Linked DNA regions of Homo sapiens: all the other regions are linked to region 2. The links come from fine-mapping of genetic effects on gene expression. A gene starts in region 2. Each other region holds a variant in brackets. All regions are shown on one strand. Distances are from middle to middle.

Region 1 (8,188 bases), 23 kb after region 2:
ACAGCCCAATAGGAATGGGGTTTCCTTGGGGTTGAGAGGAATGTTCTAAACTTGTGTGATAGTCACAAAACTGAATATGCTAAAAACTACTAAATCATATACTTTCAGGATAAATTTTATGTTTGTAAATTCGATCTCAAAAAAAGATGTTAAACAAAATCCCTCCTCACATAGGGTTTATGGTTTCTGGTGTAACTCCCTTCCATTTTTCCTGGTTCTGATATGAAGATAGCCCATTCCAGATTTGATGCCACTGGGTAAATACTGGGAGTGGAGGGGGGAAGTAAAGGAGAAAGCGGGGTATTGAGCCTTTATTAACTTATGGTAATATCCAACTAAATAGTAGCTCTTTGGTGCTGTACCCCATGACACCCCCTGTTACAGAAACAGGGAAAATGGTTTCCATTGGCAGAATAGTCATACGCTGCCTCTTACCAACTCTTAGGAAGAGAAATAAGGAATGAGGAAGAAGAAAGGGGATGGAAGAGAAGTGAAGAAGTGAGAAAAACAGGAGGAGGAAGAAGTTAGAGAAAGAAAAAAGAAGAAAAATGAAAATAGATGAGAAGTTAAGGTAGAAGAAAATGAAGGAGGAAATGGAGCAGAAACATTAACTGAGCATTTACTAAGTGCCAAACACCATACTGGGGTCTTTCTATACACAGTGTTATCAAATCTGCATAATAACCCCATGAGGTAAATATTCTTACTATACCTGCTTTACAGATTTGAAAACTTGAGTGTGGTGAATACAGCATTTTCAGAGGTGCCACTGCTGGGCGTTCTACCAGTCAGCCCTTGAGCAGCACATCCATCTTCTTTCGCCCAGAAATCTGGGTAGTGGGCTCCATAGTGGACCAGTAGTATAATCTGGATGTTATTCTTGGCTCTTTCCTTAGTCCTTCTCCGTCCCTGAGATGCTTGAGCTTCCTAATATTCTGTAATATACACCAGGAGATAGTTTTTGATATACATAACTAGGAATTTTGACTATGGCAGACAGAGGTCAGTTAACTTAACTGAGGACACACAGATACGTGTGGTGGAAATGGGACTTGATGCCTGTCCACCTGATTCCAAGCATTGACTCTTAGCCATGATTTCCTACAAAAGGCACTGAGGTGTGTAGGCCATAGCTCCGTAATCCACCTGCAGTGAAGACAACACCAGCATGCAGGTTGTGGTTCAGGTGGGAAATGTTTTGTTCTGTTTCATTCCATAGAAATAGGTAGGCATTGACGCCAAATACTTTATACATACTAAAACTTAATTAAATGATCTTAAATAATACTGCATATTCTCACTTAAATGAAGAATCTAAAACAATCAAACTCGTAGAACCAGAGAATAAACTGGTGGTTACAGAGGCTAGAGGGTGAGGGTGTTAGGGAGATGATGAACAAGGTACAAAAATCTCAGAAGGAATATGGAAGTTTCTTTGAAATCTATTGCATAGTGTGGTGAATATAGTTAACAAACAGTATCATACATTTCAAAATTGCTAAGAGAGTAAATTTCAAATGTTCTCATGACAAAAAAATGCTAAGGATATGATTTCATTCTTTTTTATGGCTGCATAGTATTCCACATATTTAGCAGCAACATGGATACAGCCGCAAAAGATGTAGCTTAGGATAATGGAGGCCATTGTCCTAAGTGTATTGATGCAGGAACAGAAAATCAAATGCCACATGTTCTCACGTTTAAGTGAAAGCTAAATATTGAGTGCACATGGACATAAAGATGGAAACAATAGACGCTGGGGACTACTAGAGGAGACAGGGCGGAAGGGGAGGGACGGCTGAAAAACCAGCTGTCAGGTACTATGCTCACTACCTGGGTGATAAGATCATTAGTATACCAAACCCCAGTGACACACAATTTGCCTGTGTAACAAACCTGCCCATGTACCCCCTGAAACTAAAATAAAAGTTGAAAAAAAATGCTAAATATTTGAGATGATGGATATGTTAACTAGCTTAATTTAATTATCCTACATTGTATTTATAAATTATAACATCACGTTGTATCCAGAAATATACACAATTATAAATTGTCAATTTACAATAAAAATTGTTATTAAAAATGCTGATGTTATTGGGTTTTTAAAACATTAGACATTTAATGTTTAAGAAAATCCCACCGGGCGCGGTGGCTCATGCCTGTAATCCCAGCACTTTGGGAGGCCGAGGAGGGCGGATCACCTGAGGTCGGGAGTTCAAGACCAGCCTGATCAACATGGAGAAACCCTGTCTCTACTAAAAATACAAAAATTAGCTAGGTGTGGTGGCGCATGCCTGTAGTCCAAGTTACTTGGGAGGTTGAGGCAGGAGAATCACTCGAACCCAGGAGATGGAGGTTGCAGAGAGCCGAGATCCTGCCATTGCACTCCAGCCTGGGCAACAAGAGCAAAACTCTTTCTCTAAATAAATAAATAAATAAATAAAATTTTTAAAAGAAATTCCCTATAAAGGATTCTCTGTAATATTAATGGAAAGAAATGGTGAAGAGGGAGTGAAGTTGAGGAGAAGTTTTCTTTAACAGGGGACCACTGTTCAGAACAGTCTGCGGGGCGGGGTGGGGGTGTGCTTTTGTCCTCTTTATAGACAGGAGGATCATTATTCTGTTCAGCCAAGGTCACAGGACTAGGACAGTGGAGCTGGTATTTGACCTTGGGCCCAAAAAAATACACTGCAGTTCGTGCAGGGAGAACCAAATGGTCTACCTCCACCCTCCTGGGTTCTTTGGCATGGCTGTGAATTAAATCAGCACACAACAGATTAGCAAGAAAAAAAGCTATGTTTAACTACACACGTTGGCACAGGGGTCCCGCGAAAATATGAGAGTTGAAGAAAGACCAGATGATTGAAGCTTATATAGCAGCCTGAGCTACAGAAAGGAATAGGAGGAGCTTGGGGCTTCTGAGGGTGGTAGAGACAAGCTATGAGAAGGGGAGGGAGGAAATATAAGGTGAATAAAAGTTTGTCTTGTTATGCAAATAAAGTATCTCAGGTAATAAAAATTGTCTAGGAACAGCCCTCTTCCTGATACAGATGGTTTTACTAATATAGATTTCTTTTACAAGAAACTTAACTTTCAATTTACAATAGGCATACATTTCTTTTACAAAGGGCAGCTTTTCAGAGATACTCCTGCGTCTGCAGTGTATCTGAATAACCAGCTTGAAATATGCCAGGAAGTGTATTTTGGGGTGGCACATCTTGTCTCCCACAGTATGTTTTGAGGTGGTGCATCCTGAGCCCCAACAAATGAGCATCTTGGAAAGAGATATGGCTGGCCATTGCACAGCCAGTGCACAGAAAAATGTGAATAGCACTCCAAACCTCACCCTCCGAGGCCGCTAGGGGG[A/T]AAAACAGCTCTCCACAGCGCAACATACCTGCTAGATGTTACAATAACCCAAGTCTATGATGATGACCTGAGTCATTCATAGAAGATATACCCATTAAGGACATCATCTTCATAAAACTAGTTATATGCAACACGTCCTATGTCAAAATGTTTCTCAACATGTGTTAACCTATCAAACACACTCTCAACTAATCTCCACCCAGGTCAGGAAAATGTGGTTGAGTGTCACTTCCTGAGTCTGGCTGGTACTGCAAATATAAATTCAACGTTTTTTCAAACACATCTCACCCCCAGACCTGCCATTGGCATGCACATCTTTAACCACAAACCACGATTGAAAATGAGAAAGAAAACTCTCCTCTAGCTGGGCGCTTCATAGGACTAGCCAGGTACGACCATCTCTGAGGGTCTTTGACAGCTCAGTTTTACTGCATAATCTGTTTTCAAGACCCTTTAAAAGACCAGATTGTCTAGTACTTTTCTTTTATGAGAAGAGCTTCCCCCAACCCACCCTGCAGTCTTTTAGCAAAAACACCAGAAAGTCGGTTTTTCCCCCTTGTTTTGTTGTTGTTTTTGTTGTTCATGGTGGTGTGTTTTGTTTGTTTCAGTTTTATTTTTTCAAATTCCATGGTTATTTTCAAAATGAAGATCTAGCTTACAGTGTAATTTTTAAGTTTATGTTTATGTTGCAGAGACTGGGAGAACTGTTTAGTCACCACCTTGAGAACCTTAACATCATCTATCAGTTTACATGGTACTTGCCCTGTGGAGGAACTCAGAGCTCTCAGATTGTTTTACCTTTATTCCCTGGAAGCTTTGGACTATTGGAATATAAGCTGGAATAAGAAACTCATTGATTTGAAATTGGAGTGAAGTGATTATCTGTCTAATAACCCAATGGTTAAGTTTTTTTTTTCAAATAGGGTTTTCAGAGTACACAAATGAGCACACACTCACACACTCACAGATGCATAAACACTCTAAGACCTTCATCACTGGTGGTAACCACCACTCTACATTGACTGAAGGTGACATCTGGACTCAGCATTTCTTTTTTCTTTGGGGCTTTTCACCCATAAATAATATGCAGTTGTTCAATTCATTGCTAAACTACAGAGATCCAGTGAAGAATGAATACATTAATATTGCAAATGCATTTACTCTTTGACTCACTGACCCCATTTCTAGGAATTCAACCTACAAATATCTCTGCCCACATGAAAGATAATAAATATACCAGATTAGTCATTGCAGCATTGTTTATAAGAGAAACTGGCGCCAGGCACGGTGGCTCATGCCTGTAATCCCAGAACTTTGGGAGGCCAAGGCGGGCGGATCAAGAGGTCAGGAGTTCAAGACCAGCCAGACAAACATGGTGAAACCCCATCTCTACTAAAAATACAAAAATTAGCCAGGCGTGGTGGTGCACACCTGTAATCCCAGCTACTGAAGAGGCCGAGGCAGGAGAATCACTTGAACCTGGGAGGCGGAGGTTGCAGTGAGCTGAGATTGCACTACTGCACTCCAGCCTGGGCGACAGAGTGAGACTCCATCTCAAAAAAATAAAAAAATAAAAAAAAGAGAAACTGATTGCAAACAACCTAAATGATGTTCCTAACGGGGTGGGTTAAATAAATTACAAAACATCTCTCCCATGGAATATTATGCAGCTGTAAAAAATAAAGTGAGGGATCTCTGTATGTATTGATACAGAATAATCTCCAGGATGTACTATTAAGGAGTACAAAGTATTTTGTGTTTAATGCTTCCTTTTGTGTAAGAAAAGGTAGGGAGTAATAACATGTATTTGTATGTGCTTGTGCAAAGAAACCCTAGACAGATCTACATGAACTTTAAACAAGTGGTCATCCGAATTAGAGGTGTGGGACCAGAACAGGGGACAGGAGTGGGAATGAGATTTTTTCATAGTGTTTTATTTTTAAGCCATGTGTATATACTACCTTTTCAGAAATAACATAAAAATCACCAAATGTAAACTAAAACAAATCTACGTACTTAAATTACAAAAATGGACCGCTGGGAAAGAGCCCGTTTTTTCCATCTTTTCAGGCATGCTTATCAAATACTTCATCAGTTGGAAATTCAACAAAATAAAGTATGTGTGCAGCTACATCTGACGTTGATTCTTTATCTCATTCAAAACCACACAGTGCTGACAGCAACATCCTTCCTCTCAGCATTCATGCTTCTGCTACCACCCAGGGGCACTGAGTTCACAGCCAGCTCACAGAAGGTAAGAAACTGCACACAACCCTTAGAGAGGAGACAATCTTAGACATGTGCATGCTTCAGAGAACATCTGGAAATTCTGCAATGTTCCTGAACTCAACATACCCCTGTTTCCTTGGGTTCTTTTAGGCCAGTTTTCACAATGGGGTCACACTAATCCTCACAACCTCTACTTTAGCGACTCATGAAGCCTCTATTGTTCTGCAGAACACCATCCCCTTTCAAAGAGCCTCCCTCTCAATATTTCCGGGGGTCTTCGTGGGGATTATCACATCTGCACTTGAAAAAGCTGCCCACAGTCCCACAGGCCTCCATCGTGGTTTTCCTCTCTTTTCAATCTCCACTGATGATACACACGAAGAAGCTGTGGCCTCACACCCCCCCACTTGGCCTTCCAGATCTTCCAGCCTCTCCCTTTGGCTCTCTGCCCTGGATCCAGCCCCAGGAGGCTCTCCCAAAGGAAGGAAGGTGACTGAGGTCCGGTTATCCATTCCCTCAGCTGGCTTCCTCCCTGCAGGGTTGCCTCAGGCCACTGGGTTCCTTGACAGAGGCCACTGCTCTTCTCCAGATGACCTCTCCATGGGACTCTCTCCTTCCGGATTCCCATGACCTCCCTGTTGCCTCACTCTGTGAGGCCTTGGTGCATCTCTGTACACATCAATGGTTTGCAGATAGTCCCTATTAAACCTCCTCCGATTTTCCTGATTTGAGTGTGCTATCTGTGTGTCTGGATGGGCCCTGACCGATTTGGACTCTCCCTGCCTGCAAGGCAGTTTATGTATGTCCCATCATTGCCTTTGGTGGGCACCATCTCTGCGAACCTCCAGCTGTGCCATGGCTGGGCCACACTTTGAGAGCTGGGTCCTATCCCAATACTGTTTGTGGCTCTGTGTCTCGTAACATTCTTAAAGACCCTACTCTTTCTCCTTAGGGCTCACCTAATGGAGAGGGATGCTACTAATAATTATGCAAGGACAAAGGACACCCACTGGCGCGATCGTGAGCCATTCAGGATGTTTGGTTTCTACATGTATACACAGGAGCACACACATACATAAAAAATCTCTGCTACAGATACGATGGATACCTTCTAATTCTTCTCCCTTTTCCAGACCGCCTTTATCTGAAAAAATCCCTCCCACAAATGGACTTCTGAAAGTCCCATGCTATCAGCTCTGACATATCTGAGCCCCAGAGATAGAGACAGCTTAGACAGAGGCTGGAACATATCTAATCTGAAATTTTAGAAGAAGAATGCAGCGTGCTGTATTTTGGATATGACATTTATATCAGAGAGATGAAGATGGAGGGTGATATATTGCCAGATGAAATGCTAAGAGGACAGCCACTTTATCTTCTTAGTGATTTATATTTAAATATTTTTTAGTGATTTATATTTATATTTCTTAGTGATTTATATTTAAATATTTCTTAGTGATTTATATTTATATTTCTTAGTGATTTATATTTAAATATTTCTTAGTGATTTATATGTAAATCACTTTATCTTCTTAGTGATTTATATCTTCTTAGTGATTTATATGTACTATTTACATTATCAACCAGCATCAATGTGCAGTGGCCAGAAGCCTCTCTCCAGTGGGCCTTTACTGGCTTTCCATCTCATTCCAAAAAAAGCCAGTGAAATAGCCTGCAAGGCCTGACCTGATCTGGCCTATTTTCTTCCCTCACCTTGATCCTGCCATCCTGGCCTCCTTGCCGTTCCTCAAATAGTTCAGACACATGGCTACCACGGGGCCTTTGCTTCTGCTCCTTCTGCTTGAAATGTTCATTCTATAGATATAAGAATGGCTTGGGAGGCTGAGGCAGGTGGATCACTTGAGGTCAGGAGTTTGAGACCAGCCTGACCAACATGGAGAAACCGTGTCTCTACTAAAAATACAAAATTAGCTCTGCATGGTGGCACATACCTGTAATCCCAGCTACTCAGGAGGCTGAGGCAGGAGAATCACTGGAACCCGGGAGGCGGGGGTTGCAGTGAGCCGAGATTGCGCCATTGCACTCCAGCCTGGGCAATAAGAGCGAAACTCTGTCTCAAAAAAAAAAAAAGAATAGCTTGATTCCTTCACTCCTTCAAATCTTTGTTTAAACATCATCTTCTCAATGAGGCCTATCCAGACTTCTCATTTAAAACCATAGCCCCAGCCTAGCTTTCCATGTTGTATTATTTCCTGGAGCATGCATCACCTTCGAAAATACAATTTATTCCTTATACAAGCTATTTATTATCTCCACCCACTAGAATGTGCACTACAAGAACATATGCACAATTGCCCATTTACTGAATAGATCCTAGAACTTAGAAGAACACCTGGAACTCATAAACACACAATGATAGCTGTTTAATGAATTAATGATCAAAGCACAAATCTGATCATACACCTCTCTTGTCAAAGTTTTTTAATCTTTTATGGTTTTCCTTTGCTTTCAGTGCAAAACTAAATCTCCTTAGCATGTTTATAAAACGGCAATAATTCATTTTCTAGTCTTATACGAGCCACGTTCCCACTGCCATGAGTTGTTGCAAGAAATAAATTGTTATAATACACAA
Region 2 (8,188 bases):
CAGCAAACGCTTTGTTGAGTCTTGGCCATGTGTATTTCAGGTCTCATGTGCCCAGAGACATCTTGGTCAGAAGGCAGCTCTTGTGTGTGGCCCTTGAGACAGCAGAACCAGAGGTGATCTGTTCAGGAATATTCCGCATGTAATGCCCCTGGTTCAACTCAAAGAACCAACCTGGTAACGCCAAGAACAAGCTTCAATACTCACCTACCCACACTAAAAAACTTGCAGAAAGTGAGTTTCTCTGGAGACCCTTACTACTATACTGTGGCACTATTACTAAGACTGTGTGACAGGCAGGAGAGGGGAGTTCTAAAGGAGACTGTTAGTGCAGGCAAGATGGACTTGGGAGAAATTGTTGAGAGATGTTTGGAAAAGGACAACCAAGGAAAAGGAACAGTGAGGAAGATAAAGTGCTACAACCTCTAAAGAAATACTAAGGACCTACTACACAAAGGAAAAATTAACAGTTTCTATGCTCAAGACAGAAATTGAGGGTTTGGGGAGTAATGGTATTAGGTCGTTCACTGGGGAAGTATATTTATTACAACTTTGTTTATGTTATTTTTAATACCCTGGCTTATATACCATTCATTTAATTCAGCTAAATATTTAATGACTATTGTATTTCAGGCACTATTCTAGGTCCTCAAGATATATCATTAAACAAAAGTCCCTAGGCTCAAGAAGACATTCCAGGAGGCATGTATTAGATTTTTATCATCTTAAAAGCTAATTGATAAAAGGTAATAAAATAAGTGTAAGAGAAGGACAAAAGAAAGACCAGAAGAAAATGAAAACAGAAAAGCTAACAAATCCAGATGTAAAGGGTAAAAACTGTCTACATTATTTTTGCTACTTCCTCCATGGAGGGGTGGAGTTTGTTTCTCCTTCTTTTGAATCTGGGCTGGTCCGGTGATTGTTTTAACCTATAGAATCTGTGGAAGGGAAGCTGTGCCAGTTGTGGATCTGAAGCTTTGAGTGGGCTTGCCAGGCTCCACTTTTGAGAGTTTAGAAACCTTGAAGAAATTCACCTCCACCAGGGAGAGACCATATGGAGAGGCCACATGGATAGAGAGAGGCCGTGTGGCAACACAGAGAGGAAGGGAGGCCTGACCAGCCCAGCTGAGCCCAGGAGCCATCGTGTTAAGTGGGACATCTTGGATGTTCCTGCCAAGACAATGTTGCAGATGCCTACACCCCCAGCTGACACCAAGTGAAACAGGCCACTCAGCTGATCCCAGTCAAACCACAGAACCATGGCAGACAATAAATGATTGTTGTTTTAAGTCACTAAATTTTAGGGTGGTTGTTTATTATGCAGCAACTGATGACCAAAACAGAAAGTGATACTTGGAAGTGAGGTCTTGTGTAACAAAACCTTAAAACATGTACGTGATGATTAATTTTAAGTGGCAATTCGCCCAGGCATGGTATCCAGATATTTGGTCAAACACATCTAGTTGTGATGTGAAGGTATTTTTTAGATTTTAAGTCAGGAGACTCGGTGTAAAGCATGTTACCCTTCATAATGTGGTGGGCCTCATCCAATCAGTTGAAGGCCTTAAGAGAAAGACCAAGGTCCCAGAAGTAAAAGAGAATTCTGCCAGAGACTGCCTTTGGACTCCAGCTGCAACATCAACTCTTCCCTGGGTCTCCAGGCTGCTGGCCTGTCCAGCAGATTTGGGGCTTGCCCGACTTCACAATGATATAAGCCAATTTCTTAAAATCTCTTTCTCTCTATTAATGTATTTATATTATGTTATATAAATGTTGTTTCTCTGGAGACCCTTACTACTATACTGTAGCATTAGTACTAGGAATGTGTGACAGGCAGGAGAGGAGAGGTCTAAAGGAGACTGTTAGTGCAGGCAAGATGGACTTGGGGGAAATTGTTAGCAACTAGAAGAAAGGCAGACCCTATTATGTCCTGGTAAAAAGTTTGGTAACACTGTCACCTGTCACAATACAAAGTGCAGAAAATATACCTAATGATCTTATAGGTTTGGTAAGGAGATTTCCAGGCAGAATGTTGAAAGTGCCAACTCACTTCTTTTTTTGGTTTGGTTTGGTTTGGTTTTGAGACGGAGTCTTACTCTCTTGGCCAGGCTGGATCTTGGTTCAGTGCTACCTCCTCCTCCTGGGTTCAAGCGATTCTCCCACCTCAGTCTCCAGAGTAGCTGGGATTACAGGCACGCGCCACAACACCCGGCTAATTTTGTATTTTTAGTAGAGACGGAGTTTCAGCATGTTGGCCAGGCAGGTCTTGTACTCCTGACCTTAAGTGATCCACCTGCCTGGGCCTCCCAAAGTGCTGGGATTACAGGTGTGAGCCACAGTGCCTGGCCCAACTCACTTCTTTTAGCTGTTTCTGATAAGGTGCAGAAAGAAAGAGAGAAAATAATTCTTTATTTTTTTAAAAGCAGAATCAAGAGCAAACATTTCCATGCCAGGATTTGTTGGGTTTGAAAATAAAACTGTCATTGTTAGTCTTTCCAAAGAATATCAAAAAAGAAATAGTCTCAAGGCAATGATCGAGTCCAGAGTGCTGCCAGTAAAACATGTTCACAAGGTCAAGATTTCAGGGATGTGGCTGTAAGACTGTATGTGTGTGTGTGTGTGTGTGTGTGTGTGTGTGTGTGTGTGTGTGTGTGTGAGAGAGAGAATATTATCTAAAATATATAAAAATCTCCCATAAGAAATAAATAAGCAGCTCAATAGAAAGTATCAAGTATCTGGACAGGAAAATCACAGAAAAAAATATAAATGGCAAATAAACATATACAAGATGCTTAGACTCACTGATACTGAGGGAACAATTAGATGCTCTTTTTTCTCTTAAGTAAAAAAGTTGAAAATATTCAGCATTCAAGAGATTGTGGGAAAGCATCCCCTCTGATAGACTGATGATGGGAGAGTAAAATGGCACAACTATTTTGGAGTATATATGGAATACCTGGAATTTGGAAAAATCAAAACTTAAAATATGCATAATTCTCCCTTTTACTCAGCAGTTTCATCACTAGAAATCTATCCTACAGAAATACTCCCATATGTACACACAATGTATGTATGAAGATTTTCATTGCATCATGTTTCTCCCAACTAAGGTGAAAATTTCATGAGTGAGAACTTCGTCATTCACTCTTGTGTCATCAGTAGCTAGATCACTGTCTGGAACATAGTGGGTGCTCAACAGATACTTGTTGGATGAATGAATGGGATTGAAAAATTGGAAACAAGCTAATTTCCTGTCAATAGGAAATGGTTACATCTAGTTTATGAAATACTATGGGCTGTCAAAAGAAATGAGATAGATCTTTATGTACTCACATTGAAAGATCTTCAAGACCAGTGTTACTTTTTTTTTTTTTAATGAGGTTGCTTTCTAACATTACCATTTCATTTTGGATTTCACTTCATACTTTACAATACAGCCTGGAGGAACGCCTCAACTTCTAGTTTCTCTCTCCATTAAGTATCTAATTATGTGTAAATAGAACAACTAACGGGACGCTGGGAAGCCCAGGAGGCAAACATTTTGCAACCGGAACTGTTGAGTGTGCTCGGAGAGGCGAGGGAGGTCTATTTGCTCGTTTCCTCGGATTGCTTAAATGCGGGATTTTGCTATCCCAAAGCACAGAGTGTAAAGTAGCAGCTCCCCCTGCCTGCCTTCCCGGCTTCTTCTGTTTTACAAGCAACGATAATTTCCCGGTGAAAGCGAGGCCTGGGAATCAAATCCAAAAAGTGGTTGTTCCCTTTAGGAGAGGTTAGTAGCTGGAAAGGAGCATGAGAAAACTGGAAGGTCCCATAGACTAATGTGTTTTTTTTCCAAGGTTTGTACAGATTCACCGAGTTGCTGCGCCTTATCATCTAAGTAATGTCTCGGTTTTAGAAGTTGACATTGTTTTGTTAATTACTTCTCTGGTCACATGCATTTCAGGCCGCGCAAAAAGAATCGGAGTGCTGCTTTATATAAATGAATAAAACTAAGTTCCGTGGTTTGGCCCTTCTACACCCTCCTCCCCTACCACAGGCTTTGCAAACCACTTAAGTGTCCTCTGTAACCGTCCGGGGGCACTTTCGGGTCAGAGACAGCGGGCGGAAACCGCAGAAAAAGTTGAAAATGTCAGCGACACCCTGCATCTGCGAGTTCTATTCCGTCCCTGAAGCGGTGAAGCGGGCTGAGCGCGCCGAGGGTGGGCTGCAGCCCGGCGAGGGGCTGGGCTCAGGGCACCTTGCCCAGAAGGCGGGCATCGGTGCCAAGTGTTCACCGGCTACGCAGCAGAGCCACCGAGCAGCGCCCCCCCCCGCCTCCCGCGGGCACGCTCGGTGCCAAGGCCAGCTGCTCCTGAAAGCGGCCCGCGGAGCCCCGAGCCCGGGACTCCCTACTCAGCACCACCCGGCGGGCTCTCGGCTGACCCGCCACGGAAGATGCCCGGTTCCGGGCGATCCGGGCGGCTTCCCTGCGCGCGGGGCCCTGCTGTCCCCGCAGTGCCCACCGGTGCGCCTTAGTCGCCAACCCACCTCATCTCAGGATGAATTTCAGTGTACTTGACGCATCGCGCCAGGACGGTCTCGGGAAAGCGCTTGGTGGTGCCCGGACCGCTCCACTGCTGGCGCCACCTCGGGACGACCACCGCGAGCACCACGACGAGGATCAGGACCAGGATACTGACGCCAAGACAGAGTTGGGCTCTCCTAGAGAGCCGGCAGCAGGGTTTGTCCCCGGACACCGGGCTGAACTCGCAGTTGGCCATAGGGCTCCAGGCGGGGTTGGCTGGGCGAAGATGAGGCCGGCAGGAGGCTAGGCAGCAAGAGAGAGGCTGGCTGGGTTCTGAAACTGCACCTCCCCTTCTGTTTCACTTGCCTTTTCTCTGTTTCCCTTCCCACCCCCAACCCCTTGCCTCAGAGTTCCGTGGCTGGTTACACCAATAAGAGTTTAAAAGACCAACAACTATAGGCTCCTGTGCAGTGACCCACCCACTCCACCTCCAGGGAGAAACAGCCACCTTAATCCTCTGCAGGTGTCCTAAGGGGGCAGACAGTACATCCTTATACTCCCTCCGCTAACTCCCTTCATCAACCGGGCACTTTACACCTGAGCCACATTTGCTTCCTGGAAAGCATGAGGGTGGGCTGCCTGCTTCTATACGTGTGTGCACACAATGCCCTCTGCCTGGAAAAGGATGTCCTACCTCTCTTTCTTAACTCTGACAAATGCCTGGTCAACCACCTTTAAAGACTCAACTTAAGTCTGACTCCTTCTCTCAAGAGGCATCAGTGGCTAAGCTCTGGGTTCAAATTTAGTTCTTGCTGGATGACATGGGGCAAGTTACTTAACCTCTCTGTACTTCAGATGTAAAGCCGGGATAGTAGCAGTACCTACTTCATGGGATTGTTACGAGGATTAAGTGAGTTAATATCTACAACGTGTTTAGCACAATACCTGGCACATGGTAATCACCCAGTAAATGTAAGTTGTTACTACCAGCTCTAGGAGCTGCTCAGAGATGCAATTTTATAGTCCATGGAATGTGTTTGAAGCAGGGTCTGGCACACAGTAATAATACTGCACTCTATGCGGGAGTTTAATAAATAATAAAGTGGCTTTTCTTGCCTCTTCTTTATTAAGAGAACATCTGTGACATTCAAGCAGAGACCTAAGTAATGTGAGCGATCAAGTCACCCAACTCCCTTGGGGCAAACATTTCCCAAGCAGAGGAAATGGCAGGTGCAAAGACTCTGAGGCAGAAAAGCTCTTGGCCTGTTCCAGAGCAGCAAGGAGGCCAATTGTAGTTAGGCTAGAGGGTTGAGGGAAACAGAACAGAAGTTCGGAAAGTAGCAGGAGACCAGATCACCCATAGCTCTGTAAGACAGGATGACTTTTTGGACTGTGTGTTTTATTTATTTTTTATCTTTTTTATTTTGTTTTAAGTTCTGGGATACATGTACAGGACGTGCAGAGTTGTTACATAGGTAAATGTGTGCCATGGTGGTTTGCTGCACCTATCAATCCATTGCTTAGGTATTAAGCCCCTCATGTTTTAGCTATTCTTTCTGATGCTCTCCCTCCCTCCACTCTCCCCAACAGGCCCCAGTGTGTGTTGTTCCCCTCCCTGTGTTCATTGTTCAGCTCCCACTTATAAGTGAGAACATGCAGTGCTTGGTTTTCTGTTCCTGTGTTAGTTTGCTGAGGATAATGGCTTCCAGCTCCATCCATGTCCCTGCAAAGGACATGATCTCGTTCCTTTTTGTGGCTGCACAGTATTCCCTGGTGTATATGTACCACATTGTCTTTATCCAGTCTGTCATTGATGGGCATTTGGGTTGATTCCATGTCATTGCTATTGTGAATAGTGCTACAATGAACATATGCATGCATGTATCTTTATAACAGAATGATTTATATTCCTTTGGGTATATACCCAGTAATGAGATTGCTGGGTCAAATGGTATTTCTGGTTCTAGATCTTTGAGGAATCCCCATACTGTCTTCCACAATGGTTGAACTAATTTACACTCCCATCAACAGTGTAAGTGTTCCTATTTCTCCACAACCTCACCAGCATCTGTTGTTTATTGACTTTTTAATGATCACCATTCTGACTGGCATGAGATGATATTTCATTGTGGTTTTGGTTTGCATTTTTCTAATGATCAATGATGTTGAGCTTTTTTTCATATGTTTGTTGGCTATATAAATGTCTTCTTTTGAGAAATATCTGTTCATGTCCTTTGCCCACTTTTTAATGGGGTTGTTTATTTCTTATAAATTAGTTTAAGTTCCTTGTAGATTCTGGATATTAGACCTTTGTCAGATGGATAGATTTTGAAAATGTTCTCCCATGCTGTAGGTTGTCTGTTCACCCTGATTATAGTTTCTTTCGGTGTGCAGAAGTTCCTGAGTTTAATTGGATCCCATTTGTCATTTTCGCTTTTGTTGGAATTGCTTTTGACATTTTCATTATGAAATCTTTGCCCATGCCTATGTCCTGAATGGTATTGCCTAGATTTTCTTCTAGGGTTTTTATAGTTTTGGGTTTTACATTTTAAATCTTTAATCCATCTTGAGTTAATTTTTGAAAAAGGTGTAAGGAAGGGATCCAGTTTCAATTTTCTGCGTATAGCTAGCCAGTTTTCCCAGCACCATTTATTAAATAGGGAATCCTTTCCCCATTGCTTGTTTTTGTCAGGTCTGTCAAAGATCAGATGGTTGTAGATGTGAGTCTTATTTCTGAGATCTCTATTCTGTTTCATTGGTCTATGTGCCTGTTTTTGGATTTTATTTTTAACCCATTCGTGTGCATTTTATTTTTACCCATACAAGTCACCAAATGACTTGATCTGGCATATTATTTTAAAGGATCAATCTGGCTTTGGTATTAAGAATAAATTGTAGGAGGATAAGGATGGAGAACAGTTACAATGGCTGTAGTAGCAGTAATGAAGGTGGCAAAGAAAAAAAAAGATGGATTCTGAATAGAGTTTGAAGGTAGCAGCAGCAGGATTTGCTGATGAATTGGATGTAGCATTTGCAAGAAAGAGATGAGTCAAAGATGATGCCAAGATTTTTTATTTGTGTAACTGACCAAAGGAAGGAAAGCACTGCAATCTACAGTGATGGGAAAACGGGAGGTGAAGTAGATTTGGTCTTGGGAAGAGGCATGAATCAAGAATTTGGTTTTTGATGTGCTAAGTTTGAGATGTCTATTAGACCCCCAACAGGAGGCATCAAGGAGCCACTTGGGTATAAGCTTCTGGAGTTTGGGCAAGGGATTAATGCTGGAGACACTAATAAGGGAGACCTTAGATATGGACAGTTCTTAAAGCCAAGAGTGTATATATAAGATCATGTGAAGAGTGTGTGCAGAAACAGAAGAGTTTCAGAGTCTCAGCCATGGGCTACTCCTGTGACAGAGGCCAGAAAGATGAGAGAGCTTCAGCAAAGAGAACTGGGAAGGATGATCCCTGAGACAAGAGGAAGGGTGCCCTGAAAGTTATTGATGATAGTGACAAGAGGAATCATTTTAGAGGAAAGATGAGGACAAAGCCCACCCACAGCAGGTTTAGGAGAGTATGTGAGAAGATAAGTGATATCAGTAAGTTAGCTGGGGTTTGCGTGTGTGTGGAGAGCTTTTCTGTAAAATGAAATCGAGAAATAAAGCCATAGCTAGAGGATGCTGGGCAG
Region 3 (8,188 bases), 33 kb before region 2:
ATAATCCATCACATAATCAGAACCAATGAAAAAAATCACATGATTATCTCAATAGATGCAGAAAAGTCCTTCAATAAAATTCAACATCCCTTCATGCTAAAAACTCTCAATAAACTAGGTATCGATGGAACATATCTCAAAATAATAAGAGCTATTTCTGAAAAACCCATAGCCCATATCATACTAAATGGGCAAAAGCTGGAAGCATTCCTATCGAAAAGTGGCACGAGACAAGGATGTCCTCTCTCACCACTCCTGTTCAACATAGTATTGGAAGTTCTGGCCAGGGCAATCAGACATAAGAAATAAATAAAGTGTACTCATATAGGAAGAGAGAAAGTCAAATTGTCTCTGTGTGCAGATGACATGATTGTATATTTAGAAAACCCCAACGTCTCAGCCCAAAACCTCCTTAAGCTGATAAGCAACTTCAGCAAAGTCTCAGGATATAAAATCAGTGTGCAAAAATCACAAGCATTCCTATATACCAATAATAGACAAGCAGAGAGCCAAATCACGAGTGAACTCCCATTCAAAATTGCTACAAAGAGAATAAAATACCTAGGAATACAACTTACAAGAGACATAAGGACCTCTTCAAGGAGAACTACAAACCACTGCTCAAGGAAATAAAGGACACAAACAAATAGAAAAAATTCCATGCTCATAGATAGGAAGAATAAATATTGTGAAAATGGCCATATTGCCCAAAGTAATTGATAGATTCAATGCTATTCCCATCAAGATACCATTGACTTTCTTCATAGAATTAGAAAAAAACTACTTTAAATTTCATATGGAACCAAAAAAGAGCCCGTATAGCCAAGACAATCCTAAGCAAAAAGAACGAAGTTGGAGGCATCACGTTACCTGACTACAAAGTGTACTACAAGGCTACAGTAACTACAGTACTAGTACCAAAACAGATATATAGACCAATGAAAGAGAACGGAGACCTTGGCCGGGCACGGTGGCTCACGCCTGTAATCCCAGCACTTTGGGAGGCTGAGGCAGGCAGATCATGAGGTGATAAGTTCGAGACAAGCCTGACCAACATGGTGAAACCCCATCTCTACTAAAAATACAAAAATTAGCCAGGCGCGGTGATACATGCCTGTAATCCCAGCTACTCAGGAGGCTGAGGTAGGAGAATTGCTTGAACCAGGGAGGCGGAGGTTGCAGTGAGCCGAGATCGTGCCACTGCACTCCAGCCTGGGTAACAGAGCGAGATCTCATCTCAAAAAAAAAAAACAAAAAACAAAAAACAAAAAACAAAAACAGAACAGAGACCTCAGAAATAATACCACATGTCTACAACCACCTGATCTTCAACAAACCTGACAAAAGCAAGCAATGGAGAAAGGATTACCTATTTAATTAATAGTGCTGGGAAAACTGGCTAGCCATATACAGAAAACAAAAACTGGACCCCTTCTTTACACCTTATACAAAAATTAACTCAAGATGGATTAAACACTTAAATGTAAAACCTAAAACCATAAAAACCCTAGACGAAAATCTAGGCAATACCATTCAGGACATAGGCATGGGCAAAGACTTCATGACTAAAACACCAAAAGCAATGGCAACAAAAGCCAAAATTGACAAATGGGATCTAATTAAACTAAAGAGATACTGCACACCAAAAGAAACTACCATCAGAGTGAACAGGCAACCTACAGAATGGGAGAAATTTTTTGCAATCTATCCACCTGACAAAGATCTAATATCCTAAGTCTACAACTTAAACAAATTTACAAGAAAAAAACAACCCCATCAAAAAGTGGGCGAAGGGTATTAACAGATGCTTCTCAAAAGAAGACATTTATGTGCCCAGCAAACATATGAAAAAAAGCTTATCATCACTGGTCATTAGAGAAATGCAAATCAAAATCGCAATGGATACCATCTCACGCCAGTTAGAATGACGATCATTAAAAAGTCAGGAAACAACAGATGCTGGTGAGGCTGTGGAGAAATAGGAATGCTTTTACACTGTTGGTGGGAGTGTGAATTAGTTCAACCACTGTGGAAGATAGTGTGGCGATTCCTCAAGGATCTAGATCCAGAAATATCATTTGACCCAGCAATCCCATTACTGGGTATATACCCAAAGGAGTATAAATCATTGTACTATAAAGACACATCCACACATATGTTTATTGGAGCACTATTTACAATAGCAAAGACTTAGAGCCAACCCAAATGCCCATAAATGATGGACTGAATAAAGAAAATGTGGCACATATACACCATGGAATACTATGCAGTCATAAAAAAGAATGAGTTTATGTCCTTTGCAGGGACATGGATGAAGCTGGAAGCCATCATTCTCAGCTAAAAAACACAGGAACAGAAAACCAGACACCACGTCTTCTCACTCATAAGTGAGAGTTGAACAGTGAGAACACATGGACACAGGGAGGGGAACAACACACACCGGGGCCTGTCGGCGGGGGTGGGGAGCAAGGGGAGGGAGAGTATTAGGACAAATACCTAATGCATGTAGGGCTTAAAACCTAGATGATAGGTTGATAGGTGCAGCAAACCACCATGGCACATGTATACCTATGTAACAAACCTGCACGTTCTGCACATGTGTCCCAGAACTTAAAGTAAAATTTAAAAAAAAATTAACATGTAAAAATCCATCAATTTAATGTGCTGTATTTTGTAGAATGACAAAAACCATATGATCATCTCAATAGACACACAAAAATATTAACAAAATCCAACACTCTTGTGATGAAAAAAACACTGAGCAGATTAGAAATAAAATTTCCTCAACCTGATAAAATTCATCTATTAAACCCCACAGCTAACATTATACATAATGGCAAAAGACTGGATGCTCCCCCTTAAAATCAAGTACAGTCCAAAGATGTCTGATTTCATTACTTATATTCAACATTGTATTGGAGTTCTAGCCAAGGAATTTAGGTAAGAAAAATAAACTAAACTCATCCAGATTAGATAAGAAGAAGTAAACCTATCCCCTTCATGGATGACATGAAATACTGTATATAGAAAATTATAAGAAATCCACAAAAAGGAAACTGTTAGAACGAGTAAACATGGTCAGCAAGGTTTCAGGTTACAAAATCAGTGTACAAAAATCAATTGTATACTATCAATGAAAAATATACTATCAATGAAAAATATAAAATCAAAATTTAAACAATTCCACTTATAATAGCAGCAAAACAATTAATATTCTTAGGAGTAAATATAACAAAGAATTACAGGACTGGAACATTGAAAAATACACAACACTGTTACAAAGTAAAGAAGACCTGAACAAATGGAAAAACATTCTACATTCATGGATCAGGAGACTTAA[T/C]ATTGTTTTTGTTTTTGTTTTTTTGAGACAGAATCTCGCCCTGTTGCCCAGGCTAGAGTGCAATGGTGCGATCTCGGCTCACTGCAACCTCTGCCTCCAGGGTTCAAATGATTCTCCTGCCTCAGCCTCCTGAGTAGCTGGGATTACAGGCACATGCCACCATGCCCAGTTTTTTATTATTATTATTTTTAGTAGAGACGGGGTTTTACCAGGTTGGCCAGGCTGGTCTCGAACTTCTGAGCTCGTGATCCACCCGCCTCGGCCTCCCAAAGTGCTGGGATTACAGGCGTGAGCCACCGTGCCCGGCCAGAAGACTTAATATTGTTAAGATGACAGTATTCTCCAAGCTGATTTACAGCTTCAATGTAATCTCTATAAAAATCCCAGTTCCTTCTTTTGCAGATAGTGACAGTTTAACTTAAAATTCATATGGAAATGTAAGGAACACAGAAGAGCCAAAAATCCTGAAAAAGAAGACCAAAGTTGAAAGACACAAACTTCCTGATTTCAAAACTTACTACAATGCTACAGTAATCAAGATAATTGGTACTGGCATAATGATGTAATCACAGGACCAGTTCTAACTGGCCCTACTCTGATGATAATAGTATGTCAAGTTATTTAACAGGCACAAAGTCAAAAAGTTGTTAAGTCATGCAGCCGAAGCAATGCAGAAAAGAAGACCTCAACCTTGAATAACACCCAGAAGAAAAATTCCTCTCCTGCCCCACCACAGAAGAAAATGGTCAAGACATGACTGGAACCTGAGGGCCCAAACATTTTTAAAAGCAAGAAACCTGAGCCCAGGCATGTCCAGTGTTAAGACCCTTACCATACCTTACCATAAATGGTCTTGTTTAAAGTACTTCCAGTTGAAACCTGCCCTACCAGTGCTTCTGCATACCAGCTTGCCCTCCCTAACCCATAAAACTTGTCCCAGATCCCAGAAGGGGAGACAGATTTGAGCTTTGCATCCTGTTTCCTTGCAAGTCAACCTCACGATAAAGCTTTTGCTTTTCTCAAAAACCAGTTCCATAATATTGGCTTCCCTATCTGTCAGGCAGCAAGCACATTGCTCAGTAACAATGATAGAAATATAGATCAATGGAATAAAGAGTCCAGAAATAAAGTCTTACAGTTACCATCAATTAATTTTAGACAAGAGTGCCAAGGCCATTCAATGGGAAAAAAAAAACAACACTTTTCAACAAATGGTGCAGGGACAACAAGATATCCACATGCAAAAGAATAAATTAGGACCCATACTTTACACCATATACAAAAATTGACTCAAAATGAATGAAAGACCTAAATATAAAAGGTAAAATTAGAAAATTCTTAGAGGCAAACATAGAATAAAAAATTGTCATAACCTTGGATTAGGCAATTATTTCTTAAATATGATACCAAAAGCACAGCAACAAAAGAAAAAATACATAAATTACACTTTATCAAAATTAAAATCCTACGTTCTTCAAAGGACGCCATCAAGAAAGTGAAAATAAAATTCACAGAATGGATTAAAATATTTGTAAATATTATTTCTGTTTCAGGACTTGCATCCAGAGTAGTAAAGAGCTCTTATAATTCAATAATAAATGGATAACCCAATTAACAAATGGGCCAATAATTTTATACACATTTTTTCATAAGAGATATAAAAATGGCTAATAAACACACATAAAAATGCTCAACATCATTAGTCACTAGGGAAGTAGAAATCAAAACGAAGAGATACCACTCACCACTCACTAGGATTGGGCTAGGGGTTGAATTATGTCCCATTTGAAACTCACATAATGAAGTCCTCAGCCCAGTACCTTAAAATGTGACCATTTAAAAATAGAACAGTTGCAGGTGTAATTAATTAATGCAAGGGTGGCATCCAACAATCATGTTTTAATAAGCCCTCCAGGCAATTCTGATGCAAGTTTAGGTTTGAGAATCATTGGGTTATACATGAAAATGTGAAGAGTTCAACAGCGGTTTCTTTCCAATATCTGTGCACCATATTTCCACTTCATCCACACTTGCCTTTGAAAGCTATGCCAGGAAACCATTATCAACCTGGTTTTCTCCGTACATTATATATTTAAGGAAAAAAAAGCTTATTACATTATGTACTTCAATGTCAATGAAAATTTATGGGGCACCATTTTGGATAGTTTAGAGAAAAGAGATTTGGCAGCGATTTTCCTTTAGGGGATCTTGTTTCAATTCTATTAATGCAGTGGCCTTCTTGGGAACTTCCTGTTCCCATACTCCAACTCCCTTGTAAAACTCTTCTACATCTTTCCTTAGCAGCATCTTTGCAGACAAAGATGGAAGAATAAGATAATTTTCCACTACAAAAGATCTGGCAGGAAAGAGAAATTCATGTGCACTGAGCACCTACATGTACCAGATGCTTTCATAAGTGTGTTTATATATAATCACCAAAACTTTTATTGAGTCCCACAGAGAATTAAGACACCTCCAGAATTATTTTTATTCTTCTTGGGTATATATATCCTACTTCAAGAAACATTACCTCAGTATTCAAGAAAGTCCAGGTTACAAATTTAACAGAATTCCTTGTTTAGACGGAGCAGAGCTATAGAACGTTAGAGTTGAAACAGACCTAGGAAGAGTTTGTAACTTAACTCTCTGCCCTTTCTACATCTTATGAATCCGAGCTTTCAGTGTGCCCTACAAATTAGAGAAAATGAGTAGAGGCAATGAGAAATCTGGGGGCAGGTTTTATGAAACTATTTATTTTATCCTTAAAGCCAAACACCTCACCTTGGTTGTGCGAGTCAATTTTTTTGTTGGTTTGGATATATATGTTGAAATAAAAAGGGATTGGGACTGCAGTAGACAGGGATGGGGGCAGATCTTTCCAACTAAAGAAGGAGCAGAGAAGGAATGAATCATTTCTGGAAGTTCAATAATATTTTTTTCAAAGATTCTTCTGTTCCAAAATTGGAAGTCTTCATCAGGAGACGTCTAGGGGTGCCTGCAGTTGGGACAGGGAGACAGTGTCACGGCAATTACTAGCTCAGCAGCCGTTCCTGAGAGCTCATTCTGTGCCGGTGATTTGCTCCTTCCTAAACCAGAAGTGCTGTTGGAAGTCAGAGGTTCTCAGCCCTGGCCACACTTCAAGGTCACCTGAAGAGCTTTGGAAAAGCTGCAGTGCCTGCTTTCAGACCCACCAAGTGAGAATGGGGAAAATGGAAGACCCCAGAACCAAGAATTTCTAAAAAGGTCTCCCAAACGATTCTAATGGTCAACCAGGGGTGATGAGAAGTAACCTAACGAAACCCCTTCATTTCGCAAATGAGAAAAAGGAAGTTTATAAAGGAAATGTGACTAGCCCGAGGTCACACAGCTGTTAAATGTTAGACCAGCAGTTATTCAACTAGTTTTCCCCAGCACTTAAACTCAGGCAGAACCAGAACCTCCAAGTGTCTCCTGATTCCCTCCACCACCTCCCTCAGCTGCTACTGCCTTACTTTACTTTCATTTCTTACCGCCAGTTAGCCAACAATCAGCAATGACTAATCATTGTACTAATTATAACAACCACAACAATTAGCATTTACCAAGTGCTTTCTTCACGCAGCCATCTGGCTAAGTGTTTTACAGGCATCTCATTGGATCCTCATTCACACATACCTATTATCTCCAGTTTACCTATAAACTCAGAAGACCAAGTAACTTGCCCAACACTCCACAACTAGAATATCCCAGCCAGAATTTGCATCTTGTCCTGTCCAAGTCCAGACCACATACCCCTAGACACTTCACCAGACAGCCTCCCAAGAGGCCATCCCAAACGTTGCTTCCAAGAACAGAGGGCGAGCCCCCTACAATATTTTTAGAGAAAGAAAAGCTTTTCTTGAATAGCTCTTTTTCCAGAGCCACCTACTCAGCCACCATGATGGAACCAAATAGTTACCGTAGGGCCAGGCAAGGCTAATGCAATCAAGCAAACAAATCTGAAAGTAATTCATAACATCATTTTGAACTGTTCAACTATAATTCCTTCATCCTAAGACCTTAAAACCAGGGCATCTTCAATGCTTCTCTGTCCAAAAAACACTAGGAGAAATCACCCCACACTGATCAATCCATGTTGTAAGAATAGCTATCCCTGGACTAGTATAGAGTGGTTTTGTGACCTTCTATTCTCCTTCTTATAGTCTCAATTTTTCTGCGATAAGCATAAATTACAATGGGGGTCATAACAAAAATTTGATTTTCTTGTTAAATTGCCTGGGCAACTATACCAAATGTTGGAGAATCTTGGAGGGTCTTAGGAAATGGAAACATCTCAGGTCCAAGCACCCTTGGTGGTCACCTGTTATTTTTGTGCCTCTCCCAGGTCTCTTGGTCACAATGTATCCTTTCGCATCCCTCATCCAGATAAAGACCACACTGTGTAACAGGTAAGACAGTGTTGGTGCCCCAGACCCATGTGCTGAGGTCTAATGATGTGAAATGTGGGGTGGGGAGGGAGGCTAGGACTACAGACCTCTTCCAATAGAGCTTTCTCCCCAAACACTTCCTTGCATCCTTAAGCAAAATTGGATACCTAGTCACAAGAATCACAGAACACACCCAGAATCACACTACAAATAATGTCAGGGAGACAGGTAATAAAGAGTCTCAAGCAAAGCAAGGAGAGAATGGCACAACCTGCAAAGCCCCACTGGTCCTGCCTTCCTTCCTGCATGAGACATATGCTTTCAGGCCCAGAAGAATGAATAAAGTCACTAAGTGAGGTTTCGTGGGGTTCCTCACACAGTCAAAGGGATCTAAGGGATGAAGTCTCCAATTTATTCCATAGAGAATTGTACAGCTTACATG

Direction of the effects. Positions count from the first base shown, and alleles are read on the strand shown. Sizes are in standard deviations (SD) of each study's normalised expression. Not every link is listed here.
As copies of T replace C in region 3, the expression in subcutaneous fat of the gene that starts at base 4,844 in region 2 goes up (small effect, 0.31 SD a copy in GTEx).

Evidence for each region.
Region 1: its variant is fine-mapped to the expression of CD38 in whole blood (TOPMed, PIP above 0.99).
Region 3: its variant is fine-mapped to the expression of CD38 in subcutaneous fat (GTEx, PIP 0.97).

Annotation. Positions count from the first base shown.
Region 1 is chr4:15,751,891-15,760,078 of GRCh38, reverse strand. It overlaps LOC107986186 (a long non-coding RNA gene), which reads left to right and starts at 3,653. Exons shown (of 2, transcript XR_001741393.2): 1 at 3,653-3,755; 2 at 5,538-6,008. It also overlaps a transcript of BST1 not described here. The variant A/T (reference allele first, on the strand shown) is at 3,367.
Region 2 is chr4:15,774,984-15,783,171 of GRCh38, reverse strand. CD38 (CD38 molecule) reads right to left here and starts at 4,844. Exons shown (of 8, transcript NM_001775.4): 1 at 4,525-4,844. The coding sequence starts at 4,757. RefSeq lists silencers at 4,086-4,135, 4,326-4,375 and enhancers at 4,506-5,005, 4,417-5,059.
Region 3 is chr4:15,807,876-15,816,063 of GRCh38, reverse strand. The region is part of intron 1 of CD38 (CD38 molecule); the gene reads right to left. Among named protein-coding and RNA genes, the nearest start is that of CD38, 34 kb to the right of the region's middle. RefSeq lists an enhancer at 3,033-3,752. The variant T/C (reference allele first, on the strand shown) is at 3,341.